Linked DNA regions of Homo sapiens. The protein of the gene in region 2 interacts with the protein of the main gene of each other region in a pairwise test. Each region holds a gene or a part of one and is shown on either strand. Other genes may lie near its edges. The genes, in order: ZBTB32 and FMOD.

Evidence for each region.
Region 1: the proteins of FMOD (region 2) and ZBTB32 interact in a two-hybrid assay, tested with the Homo sapiens proteins (one study listed by BioGRID).

Annotation. Positions count from the first base shown.
Region 1 is NC_000019.10:35,700,311-35,707,777, reverse strand, and holds the start of ZBTB32 (zinc finger and BTB domain-containing protein 32), read right to left. Parts: upstream 3,221-7,467; 5' UTR 3,155-3,220; intron 1-3,154. UniProt on the Homo sapiens protein: DNA-binding protein that binds to the to a 5'-TGTACAGTGT-3' core sequence. May function as a transcriptional transactivator and transcriptional repressor. Probably exerts its repressor effect by preventing GATA3 from binding to DNA.
Region 2 is NC_000001.11:203,348,068-203,355,656, reverse strand, and holds the start of FMOD (fibromodulin precursor), read left to right. Parts: upstream 1-4,534; 5' UTR 4,535-4,624; intron 4,625-6,400; exon of another isoform or gene 6,401-6,411; intron 6,412-7,379; 5' UTR 7,380-7,386; coding exon 7,387-7,589. UniProt on the Homo sapiens protein: Affects the rate of fibrils formation. May have a primary role in collagen fibrillogenesis.

The DNA.
Region 1 (7,467 bases), on a different chromosome or scaffold from region 2:
ACTTCTGACCTCAAGTGATCCACCCGCCTCAGCCTCCCAGAGTGCAGGGATTACAAGTGTGAGCCACCCAGCCTGGGACCAATTGTTGACATTAGAAAATGGTAGACACAGGCCGGGTGCGGTGGCTCACGCCTGTAATCCCAGCACTTTGGGAGGCCGAGGTGGGCGGATCACAAGGTGAAGAGATAGAGACCGTCCTGGCCAACATGGTGAAATGCCGTCTCTACTAAAAATACAAAAATTAGCTGGGCGTGGTGGCACGTGCCTGTAATCCCAGCTACTTGGGAGGCTGAGGCAGGAGAATTGCTTAAACCCGGGAGGCGGAGGTTGCAGTGAGCCAAGATCACACCACTGCACTCCAGCCTGGTAACAGAGCTAAGACTCCATCTCGAAAAAAAAAAAAAAAAAGAAAATGGTAGACACTTATACCACTTGGCATATGAATGCATGACAAGAGATTGACAGATTACTCTGAGCCTCATGGCTGGAGAGGTTAACTATCGTCTAGCTTATTCTTTACCCTCCCCTCCTCATAATATACATGCATACCATTAATTGTTCTTTTTTTTTTTTTTTTTTTTTAGAGACACAGTCTTGCTCTGTCACCCAGCCTGGAGTGCAGTGGCACAATCATGGCTCACTGCAGTCTTGACATCCTGGGCTCAAGTCATCCCCCTATCTCAGCCTCCTGAGTAGCTGGGATTACAGGCATGTGCCATCATGCTTGGTGGCTGTCTGCCGAGCTGGGATTAACTGCACACTTCATGTGCCAGCACCCCGGGCCCCCACCACACCATAGAGGGAATGGCCAATTGAGCTGCCCCAATATTAACTGGTTTCGGGGTTAGACTTCCTTGAAGTCCACTCATAAGCCACTCCTTGCACCCTCACCCCTGGTTAAAGAACTCTGGGTGTACTGAAGGCACTCCGAAAGCATAAATACCACTGAACAGCTGAATGAAACTAGGTATCAACACCCTGCCCCATGAGTATAAAAAAGATCATCAGTAAAGACAACCTGGGTGATTTCCTTTATGTTATTTACTTATTTATTTTTGAGACAGAGTTTTGCCCTTGTTGCCCAGGCTGGAGTGCAGTGGCGCGATCTCGGCTCACTGCAACCTCTGCCTCCTGGGTTCAAGTGATTCTCCTACCTCAGGCTCCTAAGTAGCTGGGATTACAGGCATCTACCATGCCCGGCTAATTTTTTGCATTTTTAGTAGAGATGGGGTTTCACCACGTTGGCCAGGCTGGTCTTGAACTCCTGACCTCAGGTGATCCACCTGCCTCGGCCTCCCAAAGTGCTAGGATTACAGGTGTGAGCCACCACGCCCTGCCAAAAACCTGGGTGATTTCCTAAAGAGGAGAATATCTCACACACCTCTTCCTGTGCTCCACTACGATGTTCATCCTCCCCATGCACCTGCCCCGCACCTACAGCCTGATATCTTCATCTTCTAGGAATTATCAGAACAGGCATGGGAAAGAGTGGGACAGGGAGAATGAAAAGCTCCAGACATGACCCAATTCCAGTTTTTTTTTTTTTTTTGAGATGGAGTTTCGCTCTTGTTGCCCAGGCTGGAGTGCAATGGCACGATCTCGGCTCACCGCAACCTCCGCCTCCCAGGTACAAGCGATTCTCCTGCCTCAGCCTCCCTAGTAGCTGGGATTACAGGCATGTGCCACCACGCCCAGCTAATTTTGTATTTTTAGTAGAGATGGGGTTTCTCCATGTTGGTCATGCTGGTCTCAAACTTCTGACCTCAGGTAATCCGCCCGCCTTGGCCTCTCAAAGTGCTGGGATTATAGATGTGAGCCCCCACGCCTGGCCCTGCTTTTTTTTTTTTTTAATTAATTTTTTTTTTTTGAGACAGAGCATTGCTCTGTTGCCCAGGCTGGAGTGCAGTGGTGCGATCTCTGCTCACTGCAACCTCCGCCTCGTGGGTTCAAGGGATTCTCCTGCCTCAGACTCCTGAGTAGCTGGGATTACAGGCACCTGCCACCACACCTGGCTAATTTTTGTATTTTTAGTAGAGACAGGGTTTCACCATGTTGGTCAGGCTGGTCTCGAGCTCCTGACCTGGTGATCCACCCACCTCAGCCTCCCAAAGTGCTGGGATTACAGGTGTGAGCCACCACGCCTGGCCACCCAATCCCAGTTCTGTACAGAGCCACCACAAGGCAATAATACTTCATCCAGCGCAAACAGCTCGGCTGGGATTCAGAATCCTTCTCCCTAGAATCTCCAGAGGATTACTGGCCTAACCTCTTGGCCACATCATCCAACCTGGACTCCATACTGGGAAATCTGCCAAGAACATCTCAACCTGGAGTCCAGAACATTCACTCCCAGCCCAGGCTGGCTCCAAAGACCCCAGGAAACCTTCATGTGCACACTAGTTTCATCTCTTGGCCAGTGACTTCCTACATAACTTTTTTTTTCTTTTCATTTTTTTTCTTGAGACAGGGTCTCATTCTGTCGCCCAGGCTGGAGTGCAATGGCGTGATCTCAGCTCACTGCAACGTTCATCTCCTGAGTTCAATGAGTTCAAGCGATTCTCCTGCCTCAGCTTTCTGAGTAGCTGGGATTACGGACGTGTGCCACCACGCCCAGGTAATTTTTTTTAGAAACCCCGTAGAGACAGGGTTTCTCCATGTTGGCCAGGCTGGTCTCAAACTCCTGACCTCAAATGATCCACCTGCCTCAGCCTCCCAAAGTGCTGGGATTACAGGCGTGAGCCACCGCGCCCAGCCCCTGCATAACCTTTGGAGATCCACAGGCCTCTCCTTTCAGTCACCGGATCCAGGCTCAGTCCAGAGACCCTTGATAAGCTCTCATTGTCCGGAGGCCATACCTCATGCAGAGTTAAGGACCTCCAACTTCCCCACAACACCCTTCCTACTCAGGCTGGCCTCGGGGGCCGTGGACCAACTCAGAGAGCAAGCTGGCTTAGCCTCTGCCAAACCTAGGCCTAAAGGTGGCCAGGAGGCTGCATTTCCAGCCTCTCAAAGGCAGAGGAAAGCCCCAAGGGCTAAAGCCCTCAACCCGCACTTCCCAATCATCAACGAGGTCCAGTCAAGCCCCCATACCCCAGATTTGCCTGGGCCGGGCCCAAGCCCAAGAAAGTAAAGTAAGAAAAACTATGGCACTCACCGGCCCAGACCCTGTTCCTCCTTCCCTTTCAGCCTCACATACACCCAGGACGGCTTAAGGCCGAGTGACCGTTAAAAGTGGGGAATGGAGCGAGGCCAGGGACGCAACGCTCCCGCACGTGGTCACCCCTGGATCCTGAGGCGGACGCTGATTGGCTGCAGCGCGGGCCGCATTCTCCCGCTCAGGCCAGCTGAGCACGCTGGGCAGCCTGGGAGGCACCTAGGACAGCGCCACTCCCGCGCGTCTGCCTCGGACCCGCAGCTGATTGGCTGTGAAGGGGCAGAGCCTTGAGTCTCATTGGTCCATAGGCTTCAGGCCTCTTAGGCTGAGATTTCATTGATTTCCAGCCGGGCCCCAGCGTTGATCTGCTGTGGAGTCTGCCTTTTCCCACTCTCTCCACGAAGAGACTGGACCCTGATTCTCCTTCACCTGAACAGCCCTGGAGGCTCCCTCAGCAAGTGCTCAGGAGTACTACTGTCCTTTTTTTTTTTTTTTTTTTTGAGACAGAGTCTCGCTCTGTCGCCCAGGCTGGAGTGCAGTGGCGCGATCTCTGCTCACTGCAAGCTCCGACTCCCGGGCTCACACCATTCTCCTGCCTTAGCCTCCCAAGTAGCTGGGACTACAGGCGCCCGCCATCACGCCCGGCTAATTTTTTGTACATTTAGTAGAGATGGGGTTTCACCATGTTAGCCAGGATGGTCTCGATCTCCTGACCTCGTGATCCACTCGCCTCGGCCTCCCAAAGTGCTGGGATTACAGGCGTGAGCCACCACGCCCGGCTTTTTAAAAAATTATTATTTCATTTTTATTTTATGAACGGGGTCTCCCTCTGTTGCCGGTGCTGGGGTGCAATGGTGCAATCATAGCTCACTGCAGCCTCGAACTCCTGGGCTCAAGCAATCCTTCCACCTGGGCCTCCCAAAATTCTGGAACTACAGCCGTGAGACACCGTGCCTGACCTGCCTTTCTTGCTTCTATTTTGCCACCCTAAGTAGCTCCCATTTGCAAACCCTGTCACCTTTCTCTCAACCCTTTACCATCTGTGAGGTGTGTAGGGGGTGTGTAGGCTGCCGCCACACCTGATTGGCTGGGAGGCCCGTAAGAGCAAGCCAAGGCCAGGCACGGTGGCTCATGCCCGTAATCCCAGGGCTTTGAGAGGTCCAGGTGGTAGTAGGATCGCTTGAGCCCAGGAGGTCGAGGCTGCAGTGAGCTATGATCACACCACTGCACTGCAGCCTGGGCGACACAGTGAGGCCCTGTCTCTAATAAATAAATAAAAATAAAATAAAAGAGCCAGCCAGGCAGGGCACGGTGGCTCACGCCTGAAAACCCAGCACTTTGGGAGGCCGAGGAGGGCGGATCACCTGGGGTCAGGAGTTCGAGATCAGCATGACCAACATGGTGAAACCCCGTCTCTACTAAAAATACAAAAATTAGCTGAGCGTGGTGGCGGGCGCCTGTAATTCCAGCTACTCGGCAGGCTGAGGCAGGGGAATCGCTTGAACCCCGGGAGGCGGAGATTGCAGGGAGCCTATATCGCGCCACTGCACTCCAGCCTGGGAGACAGAGCGAGACGGCGTCTCAAAAAAAAAAAGAGCCAGCCAGGCTTCGGTGCCTGTGAACAGCTCCCTTTTCTCTCTTGTCCCACTCCACCACGATTGCTGGCACAGCTCACTCTGCCTCGCCTGGAAGCCTGGAAGTGTACAGGGACAGGAAAGACACAAGAGGGGGGCAGTGCCTTGCCCCGTGATTGGCAGCGTGACACTTGCACTTCCAATTCCCACTGCCACCTCGACTGTATGCTCAGCCAGGAGTAACTGCGCGCGGACGTGTCAGCACTCCCACCTCCAACCATACCGCAGAGGGAACGGCCGATTGCGCTGCCCCAACATTAACTGGCCCGGGGGTTAGACTCCCTCCAGCAGGGTTTCCCCCTGGGCAGGGCTTCGGGGCTAACAAGCTGCGAGCTCGCCCCTCGCCAGTCTCCCGAGGTGCTTGTCTGCGGGGCTTCTGGCCCGGCCCCCGCGGCGGTTGCACCGCTGATTGGCTGGCTCCGCTCCTTTCTAAGTGGCTTAGCCTGGGATTCGTTCTCAAGCATAGCCAATGAGACGCCAGGGCGCCTCAAGCAGGCGGGCATGACTCCACCGCTGTCGCTTCTGATTGGCCCTAAGGCTCGTCTTCGCTTTAGATTGACCAGAGAGCAGCGGGGCGGGAGCTTAGTTGAGCAGTTTCAGGCTGCGATGCGAGTTCGGTACCTTCCCGCTGCGCGGAGTGTTGTTGTGCGCGTCCTTCGCAGCCGCTCGCTGAGGAGCTGGAGTGGGGAGGAATGGGGGTGGTCAGGAGACAGGAGAGCACCTCGCGGAAGAGCCTGGGACAACAACCGGAGCTGTAGGTCCTGACCGAGACAGCCTGAGGCGTCCCTGGCCCCGATAGGGAGCGAAACCGCTAAAATGGGGGAAGGGGCCGGACGTGGTGGCTCACGCCTGTAATCCCAGCACTTTGGGAGGCTAAGGCGGGCAGATCACCTGAGGTCAGGAGTTCGAGACCAGCCTGACCAATATGGTGAAACCCCGTCTCTACTAAAAATACAAAAATTAGCCGGGCGTGGTGGGGGATGCCTGTAACCCCAGCTACTCGGGAGGCCCAGGCAGGTGAATTGCTTGAACCCGAGAGGCGGAAGTTACAGTGAGCGGAGATGGCGCCACTACGCTCCAGCCTGGGCGACAGAGCAAGACTCCATCTCAAAAAATAAAAATAAAAAATAAAGTAAAAAAGGGAGAAGGACTGGCACTGTGGTGGGAGTAATAGCACCTCGTGTTTACCGAGCCCTTTCCATGTGCCACGCTTGTGCATCAACTCGTTGAAACCTAAATAACCCCGTGAGGGAGGCGATTACTATGCCAGGTTAACCTCTGAGGGTCAAAGAGGTGAAGTCGTTTATTTAGGGTCCCGCAGCAGTTACGGGCATTGCTGGAACTCGAACCCTGCTGTGGTGAGAGCCCAACCTTCAAGCTACACTATGATTAAGTAGGATTGATTTTGTAGATGGGGATGGGGTCTGATCACATTGGCCCTGGTTTTGGGAAAATGGACTGACATGTACAAAAAGGTATTTTATTTATTTATTTATTTATTTATTTATTTTTGAGACAGAGTCTTGCTCTGTCGCCCAGGCTGGAGTGCAGTTGTGCGATCTCAGCTCTCTGCAATCTCCACCTCCCGGGGTTCAAGCCATCCTCCTGTCTCAGCCTCCCGAGTAGCTGGGATTACAGCCACCTGCCACCATGCCCGGCTAATTTTTGTATTTTTAGTAGAGACGGGGTTTCACCATGTTGGCCAGGCTGGTCTCGAACTCCTGACTTCAAGTGATCCTCCTGCCTCGGCCTCACATAGTGCTGGGATTACAGGCGTGAGCTACTGCACCTGGCCTAGAGAAAGGTATTTAAAAAATCAGTCTCATAATATCTTTGCTTTTTTTTTTTTTTTTGAGATAGGGTCTTGCTCTCTTGCCCAGGCTAGAGCACAGTGGCAGGATCATGGCTCACTGCAGCCTTGACCTCCTGGGGTCAAAGGATCCTCCCACATTAGCCTCCCAAGTCGCTGGGACTACAGGTGCACAACACCATGCATCACTAATTAATTAATTTATTATTTATTATTATTATTTTGTAGAGATGGTCTCACTATGTTGCTCAGGCTGGACTTAAACTCCTGGGCTCAAGGGATCCTCCTGCTTTGGACTCCCAAAGTACTGGGATTACAGGCACGAGCCACTGTGCCAGGCCCCAGACCAGTTTTAAGTGCTTTACCTACATCATCAGATTGACTCTTCATAGTAAACTCTATCGGATATTTACTGTTATTATTCTCATTTGACAGATACAAAAACTGAGGTTTGGCCTGGCACAGTGGCTCATGCCTGTAATCCCAGCACTTTGGGAGGATGAGGCGGGTGGATCCTTTGAGGCCAGGAGTTCGAGACCAGCCTGGCCAACATGGTGAAACCCTGTCTCTACTAAAAATACAAAAAAAATTAGCTGGGCATGGTGGCACATGCCTGTGATCCCAGCTACTGGGGAGGCTGAGGCAGGAGAATCACTTGAACCTGGCAGAGGTTGCAGTGAGCCGAGATCGCGCCACTGCACTCAAGCCTGGGCAACAGAGCAAGACTCCGTCTCAAACAAAACAAAACAAAAAAACAAAAACAGGTTCAGAGAAGAAACTGATTTTCCTAAGATCTCACTGGGAGTAATTGTCAGAGCTGGAATTTGAACTAGGCCTGTTGCAGTCTGACTCCAGAGCCTAAGCTCCTA
Region 2 (7,589 bases):
GAATAGGAGAAAATATCTCTCTTGGAAGCTTTGGGACACCATTGTTGGGTGCCAATGTAGCCAAGAATTTCCATTGAAACATCAGACTAGGAAAAACTCCCTCGCTGGCGTCAAGAGTTTTCAGGATGGGCCAGCAGCGGGGTCTGGATTATATAATATCGCCATGGTCATCTTTCTGCTGACCTCTGTATATTCAATTCAAGAAATCTGGTTGGGTGGGTTTTCAGTCACACCCTCTTGCCCTCCACCTTCCCTGAGTTATCTGGGATCAGAGGCTGGATCATAAAAACAAGGGTTGTTGAGTCTTGTGGGGGATGAAGAGGAAGAAAAGGGTTGGTGGCCACAAGAACGTCACTGTGTCTTTGCTGGTGGGAACTTGAGTCAGAAGGGACTTCATTTCTCCCAGACAGGGTGGGTCCAGCATCAGAGGCAATGAGCTTTGCCTAGTGATTGTGGCTTAACCTGTACTTTTCTGGGTAGGGAGGAAATAGCAGTGGCCTGAACCCCTGGAAAGTCTAAAGGTTTTCCTGGCCTGGTTGGTGGTGGTTTTTCCACCCAGCATTGAGTACTGAAGACAGACATACTCTGTGGGGAGCCAAAAATACAATTCCTTTCATAACCCTTTACTGATTGCCTACTAAGTGCCAACGCATTGTGTGCCCAGCTGGGACAGGGGCTACAGAAATGCATGACATTGCCTTTCTCTTTAGTTTATTTTCAGTCTAGTGACTGCATAGTGCTGGCTAGACACCCCCTAGAAGATACTGGTGTCCTCCTTCACATGTGGACTCCCTCAGCAAGCAATCTGGTGGACATCAATATCTCATTCTTGGCTTCCCATGTTGAAGGCAAGCTCTGAGGGCCTAGATCCAGGAACCAGGCAAACAAAGCAGCAGTGGCCAAAATGGAGGTAGAAACCTCCACTAAAGGTTAGAGAAAAGAACTTTTGAACAGTGGGTGGTTCCCTGAAACTCTGCCTTCTGACCTGGTCCCAATCATCCCTTCCATCCTTCCTTCATCCCAGGCCTGCCTTGGAACAGGATGGATAGCTAAAGACCTGGTGCACATCTCACCACTTTAGAAATGGCCAAAAAACCCCATGGAGATACTGTCTTTTTGGTGGTGCCCGGTTGGGAAGAATCCAGTCACTATTTGGTTCCCAGACTTTAGTAACTTTCATTGTTAGTAAATGCAGAATTAGTCAGCATGCTGGAATTTAAAAAAATAAACATCTGTACCCAATGGTGAATCTGTCCAGGCTATCTAGGCTCATTTAAAAGTGTTTCCCAGGCTCGGTTGCCAAGATCAGTGTCCTCCACTGAAAGGTGACTGCTTTCTGGACTCAAAAATGACTAGAAAGTTATCTGTGCATTATTCATAAGCATTTTCACAGTAAGGCCATTCTGCTTCACTCATGAGGTCAGAGTTTGCTACATTCAGATCTGCTTTATTATAATCAGGCATTATACCGAAGCCTTCTTTGTGTCTCCAACACTTAGGATCATGCCCAACACATAGTAGATGCTCAAATTTATTAAACGGAAATGAAATATGGGTGGGATGAGGAAGAGAACCCCTATACCCCAGCCCCATCTCACTTTAAAACCCCCCTGCCCCCAGATTCAGGCAGATTGGTCAATCGTAATTAATTAAGCTTCATCTTAGTCGAGGCCAGCCTGACAGCAGGGTAGTCATTGCCCCTCCACTTTGCCAATCCTCTGTGCTAGAGTTAGAGAAAAGTGTGTGGGCTTTCAAGTCATGTAGACCAAGGTTCAGATCCTTGTTTTGCCACTTACCAGCTAGTCACTTTATATCACTAAAACCCTAATTCCTTGGCTGAAAGCAGGGTCAAAAATAAAAAAAAAAAAATCCTGACAGAATGAGGTGACATAACAGAGGCAGGTCGGAGCCACTGCTGTCACCATGACCCGCAGTAACCAGCATGAGCTTACTGGCTAGAAAAATAGGAAAAAGCAGAGTGACTCAGTTAAGGGAAAACGTCGAGATGACGGGCTTTCTGCTGCTGCGGCAAGCAGAGGAGCTCAGAGACCAAGCAGCAGGAGCAGAAGAAGGCAAAAGAGAAGAAGGAGGAACCCGAGTAGCTTTGTGGCTTCATGTCCAACCCTCCTGCCCTTCGCCTATGTGACTGGAGCCAGTCCCACCACCCTCACGTTTCCTCCTGCAGTGCCCGCAGGTCCCCGCACCCATGGCCTCCTTTTGCCCTGAGTCTGCAGCGGGTCCCTTTTGTGCTTCCTTCCCCTCACGTAGCCTCTCTCCCCCTGGCCCCTCCTGGAAGTGGCGGGTGGGAGGTTACCCCTTCCCAGTGTTTTTTTATTCCTGTGGGGCTCACCCCAAAGTATTAAAAGTAGCTTTGAAAAAAAAACACTAATTCCAATGCAAAATATCTACTGTTATCTTTGATAACATAAGTAAACCACCTAGTCTATAGTAGGTGGTCAGAAAAGGCTCATTCATTAGGTTTCATCTTTTTGAAATCTCTTCTTAAATTCTGAGAATGGGTCCCTGACAAGGCCCTTTCTGACAGCCCACACGCTAAGTCAAAAGCTCAAACCTATTGGAGAAACCAAAAGGACCATCTGCCTCGACACTTCTAAATTCTTCAAATTCAAGTCATCTCAGGGTTTCTCAGTTGGTATTTTTTTAAGATAAAGGTGTTTCTTTGATGTTGGCATAAGCCAGTTAACATACTTGAGGAGAGAACATTTAGGACACATGAGTTTATCTAAGCTATTGAGATTCTGTGTGACCCACATTATAATGGTTCTCAAATGTTTTCTTCCAGCCCCTAAACTCCAGATTCAGATTCATATGTCCAACGGTCTACGTGCATCTCCAGGGGAATGCCTAGCAGGCATCTCTAACAGCATATCCAAAATGTAACTTTGGTTTTCTACCCAACTCAGTCCCACGTCACCTTTCCCATGTCAAGAAATGTTACCACCACCTACCCAGTTGCTCAAACTAAAATTCTAGGAATCATCCTTGACTTTTCCTAACTCTGCAAGACTTGTCAGTTCTCTGTCTAAAATATAAGATCTTCTCTTCCATTGCACCAGTCCAATCTGCCATTACCTCTCCTTGAGGCTGGGTTGGAGCCTCCCTGCTTCCACCCTGGCCTCCCCTTCTCCATACAGCAGCCCCTCCTACATGCTTTTAAAATGTAAATTAGATCCCATGCAAATCAGATCCCATGGCTTCTCCTGCTTGAAACATGTTTTTTTTTTTAAACATTTAGAATAGGCCGGACCGGATGACGCACGCCTGTAATCCCAGCACTTTGGGGCACTGAGGTGGGTGGATCACCTGTGTTTAGGAGTTCAAGACCAGCCTGACCAATATGATGAAACCCTGTCTCTACTAAAAATACAAAAAATTAGCTGGGCGTGGTGGCGTGTGCCTGTAGTCCCAGCTACCCAGGAGGCTGAGGCAGGAGAACGGCTTGAACCTGGGAGGCGGAGGTTGCAGAAAGCAGAGATTGTGCCACTGCACTCCAGCCTGGGCGACACAGCGAGACTCCTTTTCGATCTCCTGACCTCATGATCCTCCTGCCTCGGCCTCCCAAAGTGCTGGGATTACAGGCATGAGCCACCACGCCCAGCTGAGACTCCTTCTCAAACAAACAAACAACAACAACAACAACAAAAACATTTAGAATAAAAACCAAATCACTTCCATCGCCCAAAAGTCCTTTCATGGTACAGCTCCTGCCCAGCTTTCTGATCTTGTCTTTCCCTGGCTGAGGAATTCTATGGCTGTGAAATGGGTAGGACACAGTGAACCTCAGCTATGTGCCAGGTCAGGAGCCTCCCACACATCACCTGATACAGTCCTTGCTACAACCCAGCAAGGTAAGTGTTATTAACTCTGAATTTGTTGTGAGCATTAAGTGGAAGTGGATGATGCTAGTGCATAAGCAGTGATCAGCAAATGCTGGAGTCCCTGCCTTTCCTTTTGTTCCAGTGGTGGAGGTGGGCAGGACCTGTAGCCTAGAAAAGTCTACACTGCTTAGGGATAGAACTGGAACCAGAGCCGGCTGTCCCTTGTCATTCATGCTCCCTTATCCACTAGCCTGATGACCTGTCTATAGGGGGAGCTGAGAAGCGCGAGTTCTCGCTCTCTGGAGGGACATGTGGGTTGCTGAAGGAGTTAAGATGTCTCTTACCAAACCCTGGCCCTCCCCATCCCTGCATCTGCCTTTGTGGCTTTAATGAGAAATCCAGGCGCTTCATAAGAGACTGTACAAATAACTTCTAGGGCGCCACTAACTCATTCAGCAGAAAGGGACCCAGGGCTGCCAATGTTTCAGGGAAGATAAGTGAGTGGAAAAAAGGTGGTTTTTATAGCGTCAGGCGGACCGAAGGATTTGCGTGGTTGAGCGTGAACTCCGCCCCTGCAGCAGAGCTGAAAAAAACCAGGATCCGGGTTCCTCAGCCCCTTTTCACAATATTTGATTAGGAATTTGGGGCGGGACCCTGGTCTGGCACAGGCACGCACACTCTCAGTAGACTCTTTCACTCCTCTCTCTCTTCCTCTCTCACACGTTCTCCAACCCAAGGAGGCCAGACAGAGGGACGTGGTCACTCTCTGAAAAGTTCAACTTGAGGTAAGTATAGTCGTTTTACTTCGGGTTTGTCCCTAGCAGTTCCTTAAAAGAAATAAAGGAAAAGTGGTAGGGGATAGGGGAGATGGGGAGGCAGGGAGGGTTCATTCCTCCTTCTCCACATCTGGGCCATGACCCCAGGGATGCTGGAGAGTGGCAGAGAGGGTGTATAAGGGAGGGGTTCCAGCCCTGTACCTTTCTCTTACAGTTCCTTTATGGGTGCTGAGGGGACCTCCAATTCTCAGGCATGAAAAAGTGAAGGACCCTCTGTCTAGGGAAGCTTCTTCCCTGCTACTCATAAATCCCATCATGCTGGGAGTGTGGGCATTTTGAAGGGTATTCCAAGACCTGGATGTCCCTGCAATCTCTCTTATAGAGGGGTTTGGTACATAAATGCTATTATGGGAGAGGGGGAAACTTTTGTGTAGAATGTGTGTGTGTGTGTGTGTGTGTGTGTGTTTGGAGTGGAAAGGAGAGAATAAAAAGAAGCATTGAGAACTGGCCATGTCCAGGGAGCTGTGGATTGGGGTGGGGATGCAATCCAGGTGAGGGGATGGCCTCTGGCTTGACCTTCTCCACTGATAGGAGGGAGAGATCTTTCTCTAGAGTGGAGAAATGAAAGAACAGCAGTAGCTCCTGAGTAAACTTCCCCCAGCTGATAGTGTGGCAGTCCTGGAAACTTTCGACCTTACAGAAACTCTGAGCACAGGAGGGCCTCTAGCATTATGGGAAACAGTGTAAGACTATGCAACCCTGAAGCAACATTGCTAAGAGATGGGATGGGGTAAGGAGAGGCATAAGCTCCCCATCAAACCCTTTCAGCACCCATGGCTCTAAGAAGAGGCTGAAGTGGGCAGGGTGCACAGCCCCTAGAAAGCTGAGTCTGAAGGGGAAGGTGGCTCTTGTCTGCCAAGGTGCCCAGTCTGAAAGAAGGAGAAACGGAGACAGAGGCTCACTGTGCCAGCCCTCCAGACAGCCACCTTGGTCCTGCAACAGCCCAGGGCTGTGCATGGAAAAATGCTCTGTTGGCAGTGGGCCGCTCCATTCGTCTTCTCTCCTGGCCAGAGCCAGGAACCAGCCAGCTTGCCCAGGCAGTGGGCAGTTGGGTCAGCTTCTCCAAAACACTGTGGCTCTTTGTCTGAGGCCTGAGGCTGCCTGTGGATGAGCCAGGGTGCCTGCTCCTCTGCAACCTAGGAACTGATGGGATGAAGTGGGCCCAAGGAAACTGTTTTGAGGGGACAGAGAGGTCTGGGATGGATGGTGGTCAGGAGGTAACTCTGTTGAGTGTCATAGTTGGGGTCTTTCCCATCAGTTCACTGGATCTGATGATGTTGGCTTTTATACTCCTTTCTTTCTTCTGTTTACAGTTGCCAACCCCAGTAGGCCCAACAGCAATGTGAGGGCTGTATGTGACTCTTCCAGGCCAAGAAAGATTCTAAGGTTTCTCTGTCCAAGGGTGACACTCAGGAAGATGCCCACTGCTCACAGGAGTATGTCATGCATTGGCTATAGGTAACCAGGGTAGGGTACCCAGGCCACCCCTAGTCTCTTACCTTCCATACCTTTAGTTTCCCTCTCAGATGACATCAGACCCACATTTCCTCTTCAGTCTGCCCTGTTCCTATCTCATTAGCACAACAGGTTCAAAAGCAACAGGTTTCCAGCAATGTGGGGACCTAGACACAGAGCCTGGTCATCTAGGTGTCATCGCTGGGAGCAGGTAGCTTGGGAAAGGAGAGGAGAATGTCAGGGTCCTACCTCAAGCTGCTTTCCCTTGAGCATACACAAGAGTTTCCAATCTCTAGCTATTCTTTTGGTGTCCCTCATTCATTTCTCTTGGCCCCACATGGCTCTTGCATGATGCCCATGGTGGAGCATGAGGAGTGCTAACACCTTACTAGGCACCATGGAAGAGAGAAGCAGATTAACTCAGACTTCACACACTGAGTACCTGCTTTAGAAGGCAAGTGCCACACCCAGTGCCAGGGTCCTCAGTCTGGAAAGGATTTGTAACTGCTGCATGAAGACCCTGTCCCAGCCAAGTTGCATGTGTAGCCACAAACTGCTAACCAGTGAGTTTCCTCACTCAGCAGACTGTTACAGATGATGGCACTTTGGAGGGCAACCTGAGCCTTGTGGTGGCTGCAGAGGGACCACACTCCTCCCCAAACACTCAAGACCAAAAACTCCCAGCCTGCCCAAGAGACCAAAAGATTTTCCAGATGTAGTTCAGCTCTTCCCCTTCGATGCGTCAAGCGGCTTCTGGAGGTCTCCCATCCTAGGGCTTTCTCCTTGGACTCTTAGAAAAATACTATTTCCCCGGAACATCCAAACTGGATTTGGGTTCAGATCTGAAGAGCATCCCACTACCATCCTTACCACCACACCACAAACACAGGGATTGCTGTGGGCTTTTCAGCTTTCCCACAGGACTTTCAGAGTGCTAGAGGCTCCTAAGAATCTGCCCCTCCAAAAAAAAAATGCAGCTGTTCCCATTCAAAGACATTCTGTCTGTGACTCTATGACCAGGGGAAAATGCACTTAGCTCACCCCAAATAGCCATGGTCCGGCTGGACCAAGTGCAGAACCAGACTGGGAGGAGGCACCGAAGAAATGAGAGCAAGGCTCCTGCTCTCAGATGTTTGACATGGAAGTCAGCTCTGCATAGCTCAAAGCCTAAGGCTTGCCTACTCTGCCTCACTGCCTCTGTGGAGTCTCACTCATGCTGGCTTGCTCTGTTCTCTCCCGCTTCTTGCAGAGACAAAATGCAGTGGACCTCCCTCCTGCTGCTGGCAGGGCTCTTCTCCCTCTCCCAGGCCCAGTATGAAGATGACCCTCATTGGTGGTTCCACTACCTCCGCAGCCAGCAGTCCACCTACTACGATCCCTATGACCCTTACCCGTATGAGACCTACGAGCCTTACCCCTATGGGGTGGATGAAGGGCCAGCCTACACCTACGGCTCTCC